Linked DNA regions of Homo sapiens. The protein of the gene in region 1 interacts with the protein of each later gene in a biochemical or structural test. Each region holds a gene or a part of one and is shown on either strand. Other genes may lie near its edges.

What was found.
Region 2: the proteins of TRPC7 (region 1) and ITPR3 form a complex in vitro, tested with the Homo sapiens proteins (one study listed by BioGRID).

The regions. Positions count from the first base shown.
Region 1 is NC_000005.10:136,242,473-136,251,724, forward strand, and holds part of TRPC7 (short transient receptor potential channel 7), read right to left. Parts: coding exon 9,177-9,252; intron 5,264-9,176; coding exon 4,999-5,263; intron 1-4,998. UniProt on the Homo sapiens protein: Forms a receptor-activated non-selective calcium permeant cation channel. Probably is operated by a phosphatidylinositol second messenger system activated by receptor tyrosine kinases or G-protein coupled receptors. Activated by diacylglycerol (DAG).
Region 2 is NC_000006.12:33,624,322-33,631,321, reverse strand, and holds part of ITPR3 (inositol 1,4,5-trisphosphate-gated calcium channel ITPR3), read right to left. Parts: exon of another isoform or gene 6,932-7,000; intron 1,285-6,931; exon of another isoform or gene 938-1,284; intron 79-937; exon of another isoform or gene 1-78.

The DNA.
Region 1 (9,252 bases):
TGAAAAATTGGGAACTATTAATAGGATCTGACTTTGGGGCTTGCTCCCACTGGATCTGGCTACCTCTTCAGTAGCTTGTGCTTAAAAAAAATTGCCTGCATAGAGCCTGAAATCCTACTAATAAGATATTCACTTAAGTTAACAAGCTCCTTGTTTTTGAAGTACAAAGAGCTGAGAGTGACTTCCATCTCCCTATTGGTGCAATGATGAGGTTGGATCAGATTAGCATTTCTCATACTGTGATCCTAGACCATCTGTACCAGAATCCTCCAGGGGCTTGTTAATGTTGATTTCTGGGTCCTACCCAGAACTACTATAATCAGACTCTCTAAGAGGAAGAGCCTGGGAAGTCCCACGTTTAGCCACCTCCCCAGGTGACTCTGATGTGGTTTGAAAACCACTGCTCTGTTAAGGCTGCTCATACTGTATATTTATTCACACCTTGGGCTAAACCAATTTAATCCATCCATTTTCTTCTAGCCTCTTCATTGAGGTCTGCCAGATGGAGAAAATGAGAATCTGGGAGTGGCCGGAGGGAGGCGGTATGTGATTTTAGAACTGGAAGACACTGGGCGATAGGGCAGGCCTTGGTTGAGGGTTGGGGCTGCAGTTAGTAGAGAAGTCTTTCTTCTCTTCTTTCCCTCTGTCTTAGAATGCTTGCCCTTCCTCTTCCCCTTGGGACAGTGCTACAACATGGTGAGACTGGTTTTTGTGAGCTGGCCTGGGACTGCACCCCTAGGGTGAGCAGAGCTCATATGAAAAAGCTCCCTGTAGGTTTCTAACAGCTGACTTTCGAAGTGGACTCCTGAACAGTCTTTAGAGACTCCAATTGCCCTTGGATGTGGCAGGAATGGGGTTGGGGGGAGGTCAAAAGTGGGGCTGGGGGGATACCTGCAGTGTGCTCCAACCCAAATTTCCCTTCTGTAGAATTGGGTCTGCCGAGTCTATAGAAACAGATGCTGAGTTCTATAGACTCCTGCCTTACCCTACAAGCTCAAAATTCCACAGAGAACAGGCCACTCACCTGTGGGTGGGTCAAAGGGAAGATTATGAGCTGGGCAGGGCAGCCTGGGGATGGGCTGCTCTGGAGCAAACATTCACCTGAGTGAAGTTGTTTGACTTCATCATCAGCATGGCTGGCACTCAGAACAGCTTTGAGTATCCTAAGGCACGAGTCTCATTTATTCTCACATGGCTTTTTTTTTTTTTAATTAACAAAGAAGATCTCTTGGGGGTGACATGCACCGGAGAGCAGTCAAAAGGTAAAAGATGACATTTACAAAAATCCATTCTTTTCTCTCTCCACTTCACTGCTCTATTGACTGTTTTTCTGTTCAATCAAATCCTATTCACAGCTACACATCTCATTTCAGGAACTGCCACGGCGATAAATCTCCCATCCTTTCTTCACTGTGCTTGCCGCCTCCCCACCCTTTATCCTCTTCCCTCTCCTAGAAGGTCTGGGGTCCTCTTGGTTGGGTCTCTTGTGTCTAGGAAATCTTCATTCAGTTTGCCTTTCCCCATCACTCTTCCTAATCCCAAAGACCCCAACCCAGGCCACCTGCCTTCCTCCCTGTATTGGTTAGCTGTGCTGCATCTAGTTGAGAATTGTGGCTAGGTCAGCCCTACTCTAAAGTCATAATCTCTCTCTCTCTCTCTTTCGCCCTCCCCTCCCCTCCCTTCCCTCCCTCCTTCCCTCTCTTTCTTCCTTCCTTCCTCTCCCTCCTCCTCCTTCTTCTTCTTTTTTCTTTAATGAGGTTTCACTGTATTGCCCAGGCTGGTCTCAAACTCTTGGGGATCCTTCCACCTCAGCCTCCCAGTGTTGGGATTATAGACATGAGCTACCAGGCCTGGCCCCTTTGTCATTTTTCTGTGTGTCATGGCACTGATCTTCTGAGGGAGTGAGGGACTGTGGGCTGGTGATACAGGCTCTCCGTAGAGGAGGGAAGAGAGGGATTGCAGAGAATACTCTGGGCAGTAGGAACAGGATAGAAGTGCACACTGTCAAATGCCCAGTCTACTGTTTATTTGACTACTTTGACTCTGGCTTCCTTTCTCCTGTTTATTCCCTCATTCTTGTTCATAAAGCATTTAATGAGCAAACAACCTTTGCAAGGCACCATGCTAGGCTAGAAACACAGGAGGGACACCAGGGTCTGATCACAGAAAGTAAGAGCCTTCGTTTATCGGCTGACATCCTCTCCATGTTCAGTAGCAATGCATCCCATGTGGAGTGGATACATTTAGTTTTACCTTTAGCAGATCTAGAGCAAATTTGCTTTTGGGTGATTGAAACTTATTCTATTCCTTCAGCAGTTAATCACTAAGTATTGGAGTGATATAAAGTAGTCCAGCTGATTCAACAATGTGCTTGGCCTGTGCTGGTGGACAGTGTGTAAGCTAGACCACTGCCCAGAAAGGGCGCTATAGACCAATTCAGTACTCAGGTGTCTTTTCTTGCAATTTATTCTCCCCTGAGGATAAATTATTCACCATCTCCATTATCATCATTACTATTTATTGAAGGCTCACTTTATGCCAAGCATTGCATTTGGTCGTATTTCTTCTTATTGGATCCTTACAACAATCCTGTGAAGTTGGCTCTCTTAGTATTCTCATTTTGGAGCTGGGGAAATTGAGGCCCAAGGGATTTAAGCACTTGCCCAAGGCCACAAAGTCAGTAAGAGGCCGAGCTCAGACTGAAACCTAGTCTGTCGGTCCATGGGGTACCAAGGCTCCAACATAGCCTGTGGGCCGAGGAGCAGAGCCAAGCACCTCTCAGGTGCATTTCTCAGCACTGGGCCTGGCACCTATTCTCTTGACACACAAACTACTTTGCTTCAGGGAGTAACAGCTTCTGTGGTTCAGCAGCACCAGAGTCCCACTCTTTTAGGTAGTTTCAGCTGGGTGGGGCAGCGCAGTCCATAATTCTGAGCTAAGTGGCACAGAATTCATTGTACTTGGTTCTCAGAGACAAGTATCTTACCTTAATGGGTGATTTCTCCAGAAGAGTAAGATGAGGCCCTGCTGCAACCTGGAAATTGCTCAGGGAGTCTGAGGGGCAGGGATCAGAGCCATTTCTACTAGCTGGAAAACTGACATTCTAGGCCACTCAGGGCTTCCTGGGGACAAGTGTCAGGAAGTGCTTAGCCCCATTGATCCTGGCTGCTGTGCTGGGATTCCACAAGGCTGAAAACCTGACTATCCTCCTTTCAAGACTTTGGCCAAGAGCTTGGTGAAGGCAAGGAGAAGTTCTGGAACTGAGTGGGTCTGGGGCAGGACATGGACTGGAAACACTTCTGTGTTTCAGGCACTTTATGTAAACATCCTCATTTATCCATAAAGGTATTTGTGAATAAGGTGGGAAACCTTATTTTCATTTTATAGACGAGGACACAGAGGCTCAGATAAATCAAATGACTTAAGTTCACCGGCCAGTATATGCCTGTGTCAGGAAGTATATTCAGGTCTTCCACACTCTTCCACTAGACCCTTCTCGGTGCTACCGATGGCTGGCCCTCCAGGAGACTATCTGGCATCCTGCCCCGTGCCCATCCCCAGGGGAGGAGCTTTGGATCTTTGTGGACACAGGCTTAGAGAGCTCCATCACCACTTCCACGGTGGGGGATGTGCATGCCATTGTGTTACTCTGCCTGCTTTCTGGAGCACCCCTAGCAGCTACTTCTGGACCCCAATTTCAGTGTCTTGCCTCATGCTCAGGCTGCATGCCTCCTGCCTCTCTCACATGGGCTTTCCTTCCTGCTGCAGAGGCACATGATGCTGCAGGACTTGCTGGGTGTCCACACACAAGACCTGGCTTGCCCAGCCAGGCATGGAGAGCAGTGACCTGCAACCACTCGCAGACCTGCCTCCCATGCTGTGTGGATATGGCTTCCCCAGGGCTTCCCTGGAAGTGTAGGTGAGTTAACGTCCTATGGAGTGACTAATGAGAGACAGCAGATGGGACTGATCTGGATGATAAATTCTCTATTCTCAGCCTGATGGGCTATTCTGAGATGTGGTCTTTCCAGATAGTCCCCCTGGAGAGGTCCATCATGCCCATGCTGTGTATTCTGGTGGGCAGTGGCCAGGGAGCTGCCTGGATTTGCTTTCCCCATCTTCACTTCACACACCTCTCATGCAGCAGCACTTTGTACTTGCTTCCCCTCTTCCCATTCTTCACTTTCCTTTTTCCTTCAGTTTTATTTCCCTTAGATTGCAACTCCCTCACTCTAATAAAGTGTTAGCATGCAACTTTTACCCAGAGTTCTGTTTTCTAGGCAACACAGGCTAAGACAATAATAACAGTAAGAATAATTTTTTTTACCACATATTGAGTTTACTACGTGAGTTACATCATCTCACTGAATCCTTGCACAATCTCTATGAAGAAGGTACTATTATTATCACCATTTTAAAAACAAGAAAATGAAGTATCAGAGATGTTAACCCATTTCCCCTTGGCCCCAAGAATACTCGCCAGCATGCTTGCTGCTGCATTGTTTACCCTGAGATAACTCATGGATTGCAGTCCTAACTTTACCCCCAAAGTTTACCACCACAAAATATCTCGCTTTTATTATTATTTTCACATCACTCTAGTCTATCAACTTTGGAAACAAAAGACAACATTATATTAATGGCATTCTGTTTTTAGTAGTGGTCTTTCCATTTATGAAATTTCCATTTATGAAATAATTCCTGATTGCTGAGAATGTCAAATCCTAGAAAACGTAGCATTCCTACATGTGATTTTTTTTTTTCTAAATGGGAACATGCTCTGGTCACACGAAATGTAAGTGGCAAAGTGAGGATTTAACTCAACTCATCTGTTCAACTCCAGAACCTGAACTCTAAACCACCCTTGAATAAAGTTGCCTTTAACCTTGAGAGATAGCAAGGAAACAGCAGTCTCTGCAAGAAGCCACCTTCAGGAGACTCCCAAGGATTCCCAGGAAGCCCAGGGAGAACCTCAGGGGAAAGCTCTCAGATACTCACGTTGTAAACGCTGGGTTGTATTTGGCACCTCGGTAGTAAGAGTACAGGTTGAACATCCCAATCATGAAGGCCACAAATACCATGATGAAAATGACCATGAACTTGAAGATATCTTTCACAGTTCTCCCTAGCGAGATCTGCAGGGGCCCAAAACTCTCGTTGGCTGGCAGAATGTATGCAATGCGAGAGAAGCTCAGCACGACGGCTATCGCGTAGAGCCCTTCCGATATGATCTGAGGGTCTGAAGGCCACCACTTGTCCCTGGCTAAAAGAAAACAATCTGGGTTACTCACGAGGCCACAGGATCTATTCTAGAAGAGAAACCAGTTAGGCATCTTTAGAGGTCTCCAACTGCATCATTTGCCATTCTTGTCCTTGTCCTTAAATTAATCCCAATATCCAGAAGTTGCCACCCTCCCTCTTGGAATGTGCTGGACCATCTGCCTGGAACACTCTTCTCTCACTTCGAAGTATGATTCATTCCTAATCCTCCTCTAAGACTCTGCTCAGGCATCACCTCTTTCAGGAAGCCTTCTGTGATCCCCCTTACCCCCACCACGGGCTGGGCAGGTTCCCAGTTTCCGTCTGTGCTCTCATTGTATCCTGTACACCCTCCATGTCTTGGCACTCACCAGGCCACTTGCTATTCTGTCTCCCTCACCAGTGTTTAGCTCCATGCTCAGGAGCTGTCCCACTCACTGGGGAGGCAGCGCGAGGAATAAGATGGGCAAGAGCATGGACTTGGGAGTCAGACATCCCTGAGGCTGAATGTGGCCCATCCACCTACTGGCCACATGACTCTGAGAGACAACTAACTAACCTTTTGAGCTTTATTTTCCTCCTCTCTAAATTATGGATAATATCCATTTCACAGGACTGTGGAGAGGATGAAATGAAATCATACATGTAAAGTGCTCAGCACAGGGTCTGGCACACAGCAGGTACAGATAAGTGTTTGTCAAATGACTGAATAGACTTTTAACCACAAGTTTAGACCAGACACAGGTCAGAACAAATAAGCTCACATGGGGACCAGGAATCTAAAGGATCTTGCCTGAAAAAATACTCTTGGGTTTTGTTCCTCAGGTACTGTGTGCTGGGATATTGCTCCTTGATTAAGCTAAGGCCCCAAAGTGGTGACCAGTCAGGCAGGTTTGCCACGACAGCCCTGTTCCAGGTAGGCAAGGGTCCTAGGACTGATCCTGAGCTGGGAAGGCTCTGCTTGTGGTCACTGTGACCACAAGGGCCTGAGCTCTCCTATGGGTATTTCTGCTGCAGAGCAAACCTGCAAAGTGTTCCTATTGCAGTTCTAATGGTACAAGGAGCAGCACCTATCACGAATCAGCTGTCTATTACATGTCAGTGATTCTCAAGTGAGGGCAGCACTTCTCTCATGGAGGATGTGTGGCGGTGTCTCTGGTTGTCAAAGTGACTGAATAGGAGTACTACTGGGATGCTAATGTCCTGCAATGCTCCAGACAGATCTGTACAATGAAAACTGCCCTGCTGGAAAAGCTAATAGTGTCCCTATTGAGAAATGCTGAGTGAAATATTAATTGAGAAGCATTGAGAAACCTAAATTAGCACTTACACTTACATTAGCTGTAATTTTCACAACAGCCCTGTAGAGTAGATATCATTATTGCCATTTTTAAGATTGGATTTAGGGTATGGGGTCCTTTTCAGAGACCGGTAAATGCAGATAGCAAGGATATTACATAGCAATTCGTGGCATTCCAAGGGAGATTGAAGAGGAAGGCTTTTATTCTTTATTTTCAAAACTAGACTCTGTTAAATAATTATAATAATAGAGAGCAGTAAGAAACCTTTAGTAAAGGAAGCCAGGCCACAAAGTTTCATGGAGTGATTCTAAATTGCATTTGGAAATATAATAACATTACAGATTCTATGTTCTCATCAAGGTCATACCTCAAAAAACCATGAAAGACTAGTAAGCAGAATAAATTACATGTTTTCCAATATATCTGTCATCTTCTATGGATAAATATTTGGATAAGATAAAATAAGACATAACTTCTCCCGTTAAACAGAAGGCAAAAAGGAATTCTTTTTTTCTGCGGCCTCTAGCTCACCATCTTAAACCTCAGTCACAATAACAAGACACTCTTATAATCTACTCAGATAGATTTAGCTGTTGTCAGATCCTGGTGACTAGGTCAGGACTTATATTGAAAAATATTATATTTCAACTGACTTGTAAAGAGTTGTGATGAGTGTAGAATGAACAGCACTGTGATGATTTGGACAAAGGGGTTTTCTCCTTAGAGCTATTTCCAAGAGAAAAATTGCCCTATCACAACCTGAAAAATTGTTATCTGCGCATTTGGTGCTGTAGAGGTTGGAAGGAGCCACCGTCCAGCTGGCCACAAGAGGGCTCTCCTGCCCTGTAACTGGAGCACAAGTTAAGCCAGAAATCCAAAGGATTTCCAAGGGCACAGCGTGAACCGCAAATACAAGAGCAATAACGTACTATGCTTTGGGTTGGGTGAGACCTTAATACAACCCATAAAGCAACAGAAGTCAGAAGTGGACAATACTGCAGCCTGAATCCTGGCATTAAGAAAAGTACATAATGCAGCATCAATATTCTCTCTTCCTTCCTTGATGAACCCTAACAAGACAGAGGATAATATCCAAGCTATTTTGCTTTAAGAAAGTCTGAATTTGCCAAACCCCAAAATGGCAGAGGGTGGGTGGGTGGATGACTTGTAATACTACAAGACTCTCCATTTCTCAATGGAGATTTCCCTACCACATTTACATGTAACATAATCTACACTGAAAACGGGCAGTTACTCAACTTTTGCGTTAAGCGAACAACCCTCTGCAGATCATTGTTGTACCTGACCACAGAATCATTGTTGTATCTTACCATAAAGATTCTGTGGTCCCGGAGCCATCTGGCTTCATGTAACAGGGACATTCAACACTCAATCCCTTCAAGATGTTGTAGCTACCATTAGCAATTGCCTACTAAGTGTCCAGCTGCTTTTTACTGTTAACAAGTATCTACTGTTCCTTCAACTTTCAACATCTTTCTGTTTCAGTACAGAAATTACAGTGTTTGAACAAGAAAATGACCCAAAAGGTAGTAGTAAGACATAACTTATTTTAAAATAAGTAAGCAGATAATAGCTGCTACCATTAAGTGAGCATTTACTATTTTCACAGCAGAGTGCAAAGCGCTTCACATACACTATTTTATTCAGCCCTCAAAACAAACTTTTTGATGTAGGTATTATTATCTCTGTTTTACATATGAGAAAAAAGAGCTCAGAAAAGTTAAGTAAACAAGATCTCACAGTAAACTACCGAACTAGGATTTGAATCCAGGTCTCTTCTACTCCAAAGCTTGGGGACATAACCACTATGCTATTCAGCATGATTTTCAAATCATGTCAGGCCAGGATTCCCTGCTATACAAGGCAATCCTGTATTTTCTGGAAACATTATAAGCCCTGCTATAAAAACCTGATTCTTCATGTTTAAAATAGGGACAAAAGAAGGACCCTTTTTTGCCGGGCTATTTGCAAGAATTAGAATTGTGTGTATAAAATGTCTACACAATTCCTGGCACATAGTAGGTTCTCAATAAACATATGTTATAACTATTATTAGTATTCCTAAAGTCTCAATCTACTACATCAAACTGTAAGCCTTTGCATTTTGCAAGAATTAAGGTAATTAAGGTATCTTCTAAGAATGTATCTTGCCACCAAGCAATAACTAGGAAAGCAGGATTTATTTTTGCACAAAACACAGGGATCCAATATAGAAGGAAAATTCTTCCGCATATACATATCCCTTTAGCGCTCCTGGATGCACATCAGAAACAAGACGTTTCTTAAAAACAAACAAACTACAGAAATGTTCCCAAGGGCCTTTCAGAAACAAATTCACCCTTAACACAAAAAGATTCATTTCTCAAAGTCACTAATTCCACGTTCTATTCTGCTGGCTACACTTCCAGGACCAAGGGTTTTTTTGAGGTGGAAAGGATGCTCTGCACTGACAGTGGAACTGCCAAAGTCGGCTGTGTTACAAATCATGGGCCACTTGATTACAAATAGCGTTACAAGTTCACCAGCCACAGTGAAGCACCAGGCCCACGTCCCGGAAGCGCCAAAATGGAGTAGGGGAAGCACTCTCCGACTCACCGTAGGTGAAGTATGCCACTTCCGGCGGAAGCGAGACATTGTGCAGCGTGTCGTCCTGCACGTGCTGGTCCACGTA
Region 2 (7,000 bases), on another chromosome or scaffold:
ACCCCAGCCGTTCAGGGCCACTACTGGTCTCCGCGTCTTGATGGTAGTGGTCACCCCGGCCCAGGTGTTTTTTCTTTATCTCTTTGTCTTGTGCTTTTATTTATTACAATCTCTCATCTCCGCACATGGGGAGAACACCCACTAAGCCCCGTAGGGCTAGACCCTACAACTGGCCACCACTCCACAGATGCAGGCCAGCCCCAAGGAGGCCACTCCAACAGCAGGCACTGTCAGAACACTGGGATGGGCTGGTGGTGGGTGGGAAGCCTGGGGGGCCCTTTCTCCAGATAGCCAAAGTCACACCTACTAGGCGGAATGTTAAGAGAGAAACCCAGATTCACTGGTTGGGGCTCCTGGCTCATCAGAGAAAAGAAATTAACTCCTGCATCCCTGCAAAAGCAACCATTTCCTTTACCTCTACATATCTTTACCAAGAATCCACCCTGTGCCAACCAACGGGGGGCCAGACAGTATATGGAATATATAGAATTTTAAAACAAGTACAGCTAAAGCCTTCAGAAAGCTTAAAGTCTAGAAAGGACAATAAGCCGCACACGCAGAGAACCCAAATAGTCTCTCCAGGAAGAATGGAGATAGCAAGAACAACTAAACTTGGCCCAGTAGAAATAAAGGTCGGGGCCAGTGTGCCACCCTGCCTCTGCCACAGGCCTGGGTTTCTGGCTGTCAGGGTCAGGCGGGCTGTCTGACAAGTCCTGGGGTCTCTACAGCGGTGCTGGGTGCATGGGAGGACATATCTGTAAGGCCAAGGAGAAGAAAGACAGGGAGCAGGAGACCAAAGGGAAAGCTGGGAAGAGAGGGAGAAAAGGTGCAACCATGGGCCGCCAGCCAGCCCTTGCCTCATATATTTGGCCTGCCAGCCCCAGGCTTGTCTCCCACTCTCCATAACCCAGAACTGGACTCTCTCAGTCTTTCTCACTTGACAGAGTAACTGAGGCTGTAGGACCCTCAGCAGGGCAGACCCTCAGGCCAACTCGCCCTGGCTCCAAACCTCCGCAGAGCTCTCTGGGAAACAAAGCAACAAAGGCAGCCCTGACAAATCAATCCAGAAAGTGAAGCAGCCTACACCACAACCCCGCCTTGCCAGAAACTCAGTGTTCATGGTGGAAAAGGAGATGAGGGCGGGGCGCTGTTTTAGATTAAAGGAAACTGAAGAGGCATAAGAAAATGTAACACGAGTACCTTGACAGGATCTCGATGGTTTTTCTTTTTTTTTGACGGAGTCTCACTCTGTTGCCAGGCTGGAGTGCAGTGGCACGATCTCAGCTCACTGCAACCCCCACCTCCCGGGTTCAAGTGATTCTCCTGCCTCAGCCTCCCGAGTAGCTGGGACCACAGGCATGTGCCACGATGCCCAGCTAATTCTTGTATTTTTAGTAGAGACGGAGTTTCACCACGTTGGCCAGGATGGTCTTGATCTCTTGACCTCGTGATCCGCCTGCCTCAGCCTCCCAAAGAGCTGGGATTACAGGCATGAGCCACTGCGCCTGGCCTAGGATCCTGATTTAAAGAAACCAATGGTCAGGCCCGGCGTGGTGGCTCACGCCTGTAATCCCAACACTTTGGGAGGCTGAGGCGGGCAGATCACCTGAGGTTAGGAGTTCAAGACCAGCCTGCCCAACATGGTGAAACCCGTCTCTACTAAAAATACAAAAATTAGCTGGGCGTGGTGGCTGGCACTGGTAATCCCAGCTACTCTGGAGGCTGAGGCAGGAGAATCACTCGAACCCGGGAGGCAGAGGCTGCAGTGAGCCGAGATTGCACCATTGCACTCTAGCCTGGGCTACAAGAGGGAAACTCCATCTCAAAAAAAAAAAAAAAGAAACCAATGGTCGGTCAAACACAGACAACCTGGGCCCAGTGGCTGTAATCCCAGCACTTTGGGAGGCCAAGACAGGAGGATTGCTTGAGCTCAGGAGTTCGAGGTTACAGTGAACTCTGATCACACCACTGAGGACAATGGGCACATCTGACTATGGATTGGGCCCTGAATGCTATTAGGAAACTATTAATTGGTGTGATCACAACACTGTAGTTACATAGGGATGTATAATAAAATATTTAGAGGTGAAAAAGATGCAATGTATGTAATTTATCATAAAATACTTCAGCAAAAAATACAAATATCAAATGTGACCACTGTAAACAATGATTAAGTCTAGGTGGTAAGCAAATTGGTGTTCTAAATGCTTCCCACTACTTTTCCTGAATTGTATTTATGCCTCAGGCTGTGAGAGCATAGGTAAAGGCCAGGGCCACCCAATGTAAGTGATCTGTAAAGTCTACCCACTGCCATCATCATCATCATCTTTGAGACACAGACTTAATTTTCCCTCCCATTACCTATATCACCCCCATCATCTATTTCTAGACTCATACTGGAGAAGAGGGCTCTCCTGCACTGTGCAGGAAGGGCTAATGGCTGGCTGGCTGGCGGGCTGGCTGGCTGAGCGATGGGGAGAGCAATTTGCTAACCAAATATGCACAGGTGTCTGCCTCAAGCACCTGCAGCTGCTCCTGGACTGAGATTTGTGTTGACAGCCCCTTCCGGCTCTGCCCACCTGCTGACCAAAAAAACATAGCACTCTGGCCATTTTACTCCCTCACTGAAGCCTCTGCAATGAGTCTCTCCTGACTGTCTCCCCAAGTGGAAATCCCTCTGTAATGTGGCATGTGGCTCCACCCAGTTCCATCCCCAGCCCACACCCTGGACTCACTGTGTTGTGAACGCCCAGCCTCATTTCTGCACCCACGATTTCTCTCACAGTCCCTAGCCTGAAAGGCCCTACAAACTTCTCTTCTCAGTCCCCTGCTGCGTGACCCCAAGCTCTCCAAGCCAGGTGTCCTGACTGCAGGGAATTGTGACTGCAGGTACAAATGCTGGGTGTCACTGGCACCTTTCGCATGACCAGCCTGACATACCCAGGGGGCTCAGAGCTCACATTCAGAGGCCTGTGATGAACTTAGTAGAGATCTGCGTTCTGCTTTCCTCCTTCCCCCACCCCAGGTTTCTTCCCTTCCACTCACACAGCCCTCACTCCCAGAGAGGGGTGTCCCAGCCCCACATGGGGTGAAGTCTAGAGAGCAGGGCTGGGGGTGGACATGCAGGGACTCCAGGCATGTGTGCAGAGGTCATCCAAACCCAGAAACCTCCCCCTAAGCTGAAAACAGAAAGCTGGTGTGGCCCCACCCTAAAACTCAGCATGTGTCCCCACCCCCAACCCAAGCCACCGCCCCAGTGGGCCAAGCTAGGGAGGGGATATGGGGTCAGGAATGTAGGGCAGGGCAGAGTGTAATCAAGTGGCTCCAGCAGGATTCTTTCAGGCCGGCAGGATTCAGGCCGAGCAGTTGGATGCAGCCTGAGACCCTGGAGTCTCAAGGTGGATGTGTGGCACTGGTTCTAGGCTGAGCCAACCCCGCGCCACCCCCTCTCCACTTCATCCCTTCTCCATCACATCCTCGCACTGCCTGGGAAGTGCCTAGTACCTAACCTTGAGGGCAGAGGCTGGTCTTACTCCCCACATGCTAGTGCAACACTCACACATGACATGAATCATGTCTGACCCTCTGTGGCACCAAGTTCTGTTCCTATACCCCTCCACCACCACAGAAACACAAAAAGTTAGACAGCCTAAGAGTTAAAGGTGTACCTTGTCTTTGATCTCCATTTCTGGGAACGTATTACCTGAGAGGATAACTATAACTAGACAAGTGTTCAGGCATGCATGCACTAGGATGTTCAGGGCAAATTGTTCTTAACAGCAAAAATTTACAAAGAGCCTGAATGTTGAATACTAGAGTTGCTTAAATAAATTAAGGTACAGCATACCATGGCTGTGCAGCCATAACAATGGTGTGTTGGCATGGGAAAATACAGCTCACTATATATATGCAAAAAAGGACAGGGTACAAAGCCATACGTGCAGTTTGATATTGTTTGTAAATGTTCATTTATGAATATAAAAGGCTAGAAGGTCATAGGGAATGTTCATGTAAGCCATAGTGGTATTACAGATCATTTTTTTGAGTTTTTCACATTTTCTCCATGGAATGTATATTTTTTTTTAATCTGAAAAAATATATATATTTTCAAAAAATGAGTTGCATGGATTAGGCTAAGACCAAGAATCTGCCTTGAGGTACAGAACAGAAGTCTAACATCTTCTTCCAATGAAATCACAATTAAATGAAAGCCAAGCCGGGTACAGTGGCTCATGCCTGTAATCCCAGCACTTTGGGAAGCCGAGGCAGGCAGATCACCTGAGGTCAGCAGTTCAAGACCAGCTTGACCAACATGGAGAAACCCCATCTCTACTAAAAATACAAAAAAATTAGCCGGGCGTGGTGGCACATGCCTGTAATCCCAGCTACTCGGGAGGCTGAGGCAGGAGAATCGCTTGAACCTGGGAGGCGAAGGTTGTGGTGAGCTGAGATTGTGCCATTGTACTCCAGCCTGGAAAACAAGAGCAAAACTCTCTCCAAAAAAATAAAAGAAAGAAAGCCAAGACAGGTCTGAAATCCACCCAGGGAATGCTATCAGCGAGGGAAAGGCAGTCCCCTGCTCCTGGAATTACATGTGTCTCAGACTTAAGGCTCAAAGGGCCCCACTGCACAGAACGGAACAAGCTGGACCTGTGCCTTGGGTACCACTGATTCTGCAGTGCCTAAAACAGTGCCTTGCCTAGCACATGGTAGATGCCTAATAAATGTTTGTTGAATGACATTATGAAGTCTGATGAGGGCAAAGAGATGGGCCTTCTGGGCTGAGGGGCAGGTAGACCTAGCAGGCAGGCTTCCTCACAGCCTGTCAGCCTGGGAGGGCCCCCAGATCAGGGATCCCGGCCCCAGGTACTCATTAAAACCACCTGGAGAACTTTTTAAAAATCTAACACCCAGACCTTAGCCCTAGAGATGGTGATTCAGTTGGTCTGGCATGGGACTTGGGAGCTGAAATTTTTTTTTTAATCCCCAGGTGATTCTCAGGTACAGCCAGAGCACCATAGAGGATAATGCAGGCTGACGGAAACTCACTCTGAGAAGGCAGGGCCTTGTTCAAAGCATCCAGCAACGGCCAGGCACGGCGGCTCATGCCTGTAATCCCAGCACTTTGGGAGGCAGAGGAGGGAGGATCACTTGAGCCCAGGAGTTTTAGATTAGCTTGGGCAGCAAGGGGAGACCCCATCTCTATAAAAAATACAAAAACTAGCCAGATGCGGTAGCACACGCCTGTAGTCCCAGCTACTCGGGCGGCTGAGTTGTAAGGATTGCTTGAGCCTGGGAGATTAAGGCTGCAGTGAACCCAGATCACACTACTGCATTCCAGCCTGGGTGACAAAGACCCCATTTCAAACAAAACAAAACAGAAACCACCCAACAAGTTGGTGATGGAACATGAGACAGACACCCTTCCTGAGAGCTATGCCTCTGAGGTTTCCGACCTAGGGATCCTGAGCCTGGAGACCTGGGGCTTCGTCTATATTCACCCCCATACTTCTTGGGTCCTGACCTCCAGGGAAGCAGGTCAGGCTGGCAGGTAGACAGAGAATCCCATGGGTAAGAGGCAGCATCTCCTACTCACTATGATTACCCAGCCCTGGGTGATCCAGGTCCAGAGGCCCTGAGAGCTCCAAATAGGCTCCAAGGCTGAGCCATGGGTGGGCAGAGGCACTTTGACAAATGTTGAAAGCTCAGCTCCAAGACCCAGTTCACCTGCACTCCCCCAGTTTACTTTCTGTGGGTCTGGGGCTACCTCTCTGGGTACTCATAAGAGATCTTCGCCAGGCACAGTGGCTCGCGGCTGTAATCCCAACACTTTGGGAGGCCGAGGCAGGCGGATCATCTGAGGTCGGGAGTTTGAGACCAGCCTGACCAACATGGAGAAACCCAGTCTCTACTAAAAATACAAAATTAGCTGGGTGTGGAGGCACATGCCTGTAATCCCAGCTACTCGGGAGGCTGAGGCAGAAGAATCGCTTGAACCCAGGAGGCTGAGGTTGCAGTGAACTAAGATCGCCCCATTGTACTCCAGCCTGGGCAACAAGAGTGAAACTCTGTCTCAAAAAAAAAAAAAGAGATCTTCAAGAGATGACTTGAGATCCTGATGGGTCCACCCTGTGTACCCAAGGCCAGTTCTCCCTAGCCACTGGCCTGAGGCCACATTCAATCCTCCACTTTTTGTTGGCCCTAATCAGCTACTCCATCCCTGGCCTCTGCTGCTCCCACCTAGGGTAAGGGATAAAGCAGTGGCATTGGCCTTGCTCTCCTGCCAAGAACAGGCGTGGGCCTGCTTTCCCTTGCTGGCCGGCTGGCAGTCTCAACCGCTCCTGGATCCACTACCCAGATCCCTCCCATCCTTCCCACCTAGAGTTAATGTACAATCTTCACTAGGACCTCTAATTCTCCAGGAGGCTCTAATTGGCCTCGTCCACTTTGCACTGAAGAGCTCTGGCCAGAATCTGAATGCTGCCTCTGCCTCCCTCCCCAACTAATGCCCCCTTCCCATCTCCCAGGTGACCTGGCCCATCTGCCCACCAAGGCCACCCCTGCCTTCAACACATTCATTTTTATCCAGCCCTTACTGGGTACCTCCTGGGGCCCACACACTGGGCACTGGGTTAGCCCAGGAATTCAGTCAAATCAGCCTATGGGTTCACAGACATGGGCACCAACAGCCTCGGGAAAAGCAGAGGGGACCAGAGTTCAGAAAGGAGGCAGAAGGATTCTGAGGAGGATGGGGCAGAGAGAAAATCACTCAGAGCAACGCTCCTCACACTTTAATGCACCAGTCCCCTGGGGATCTTAATAAAATGCAGATTCTCATTCAGTAGGACGGGCACGGGGTCTGAGATTCTGCATTTCTGACAAACTTCCTGGTGACGCTGAAGCTGCTGGACTGATTACTTACAGCACTTACAAATCATTCCTTCTTTGACTCTTAACTTCCAAGGAAGCAGGAAGCACAGCTCCCTTAATCACCACCAAG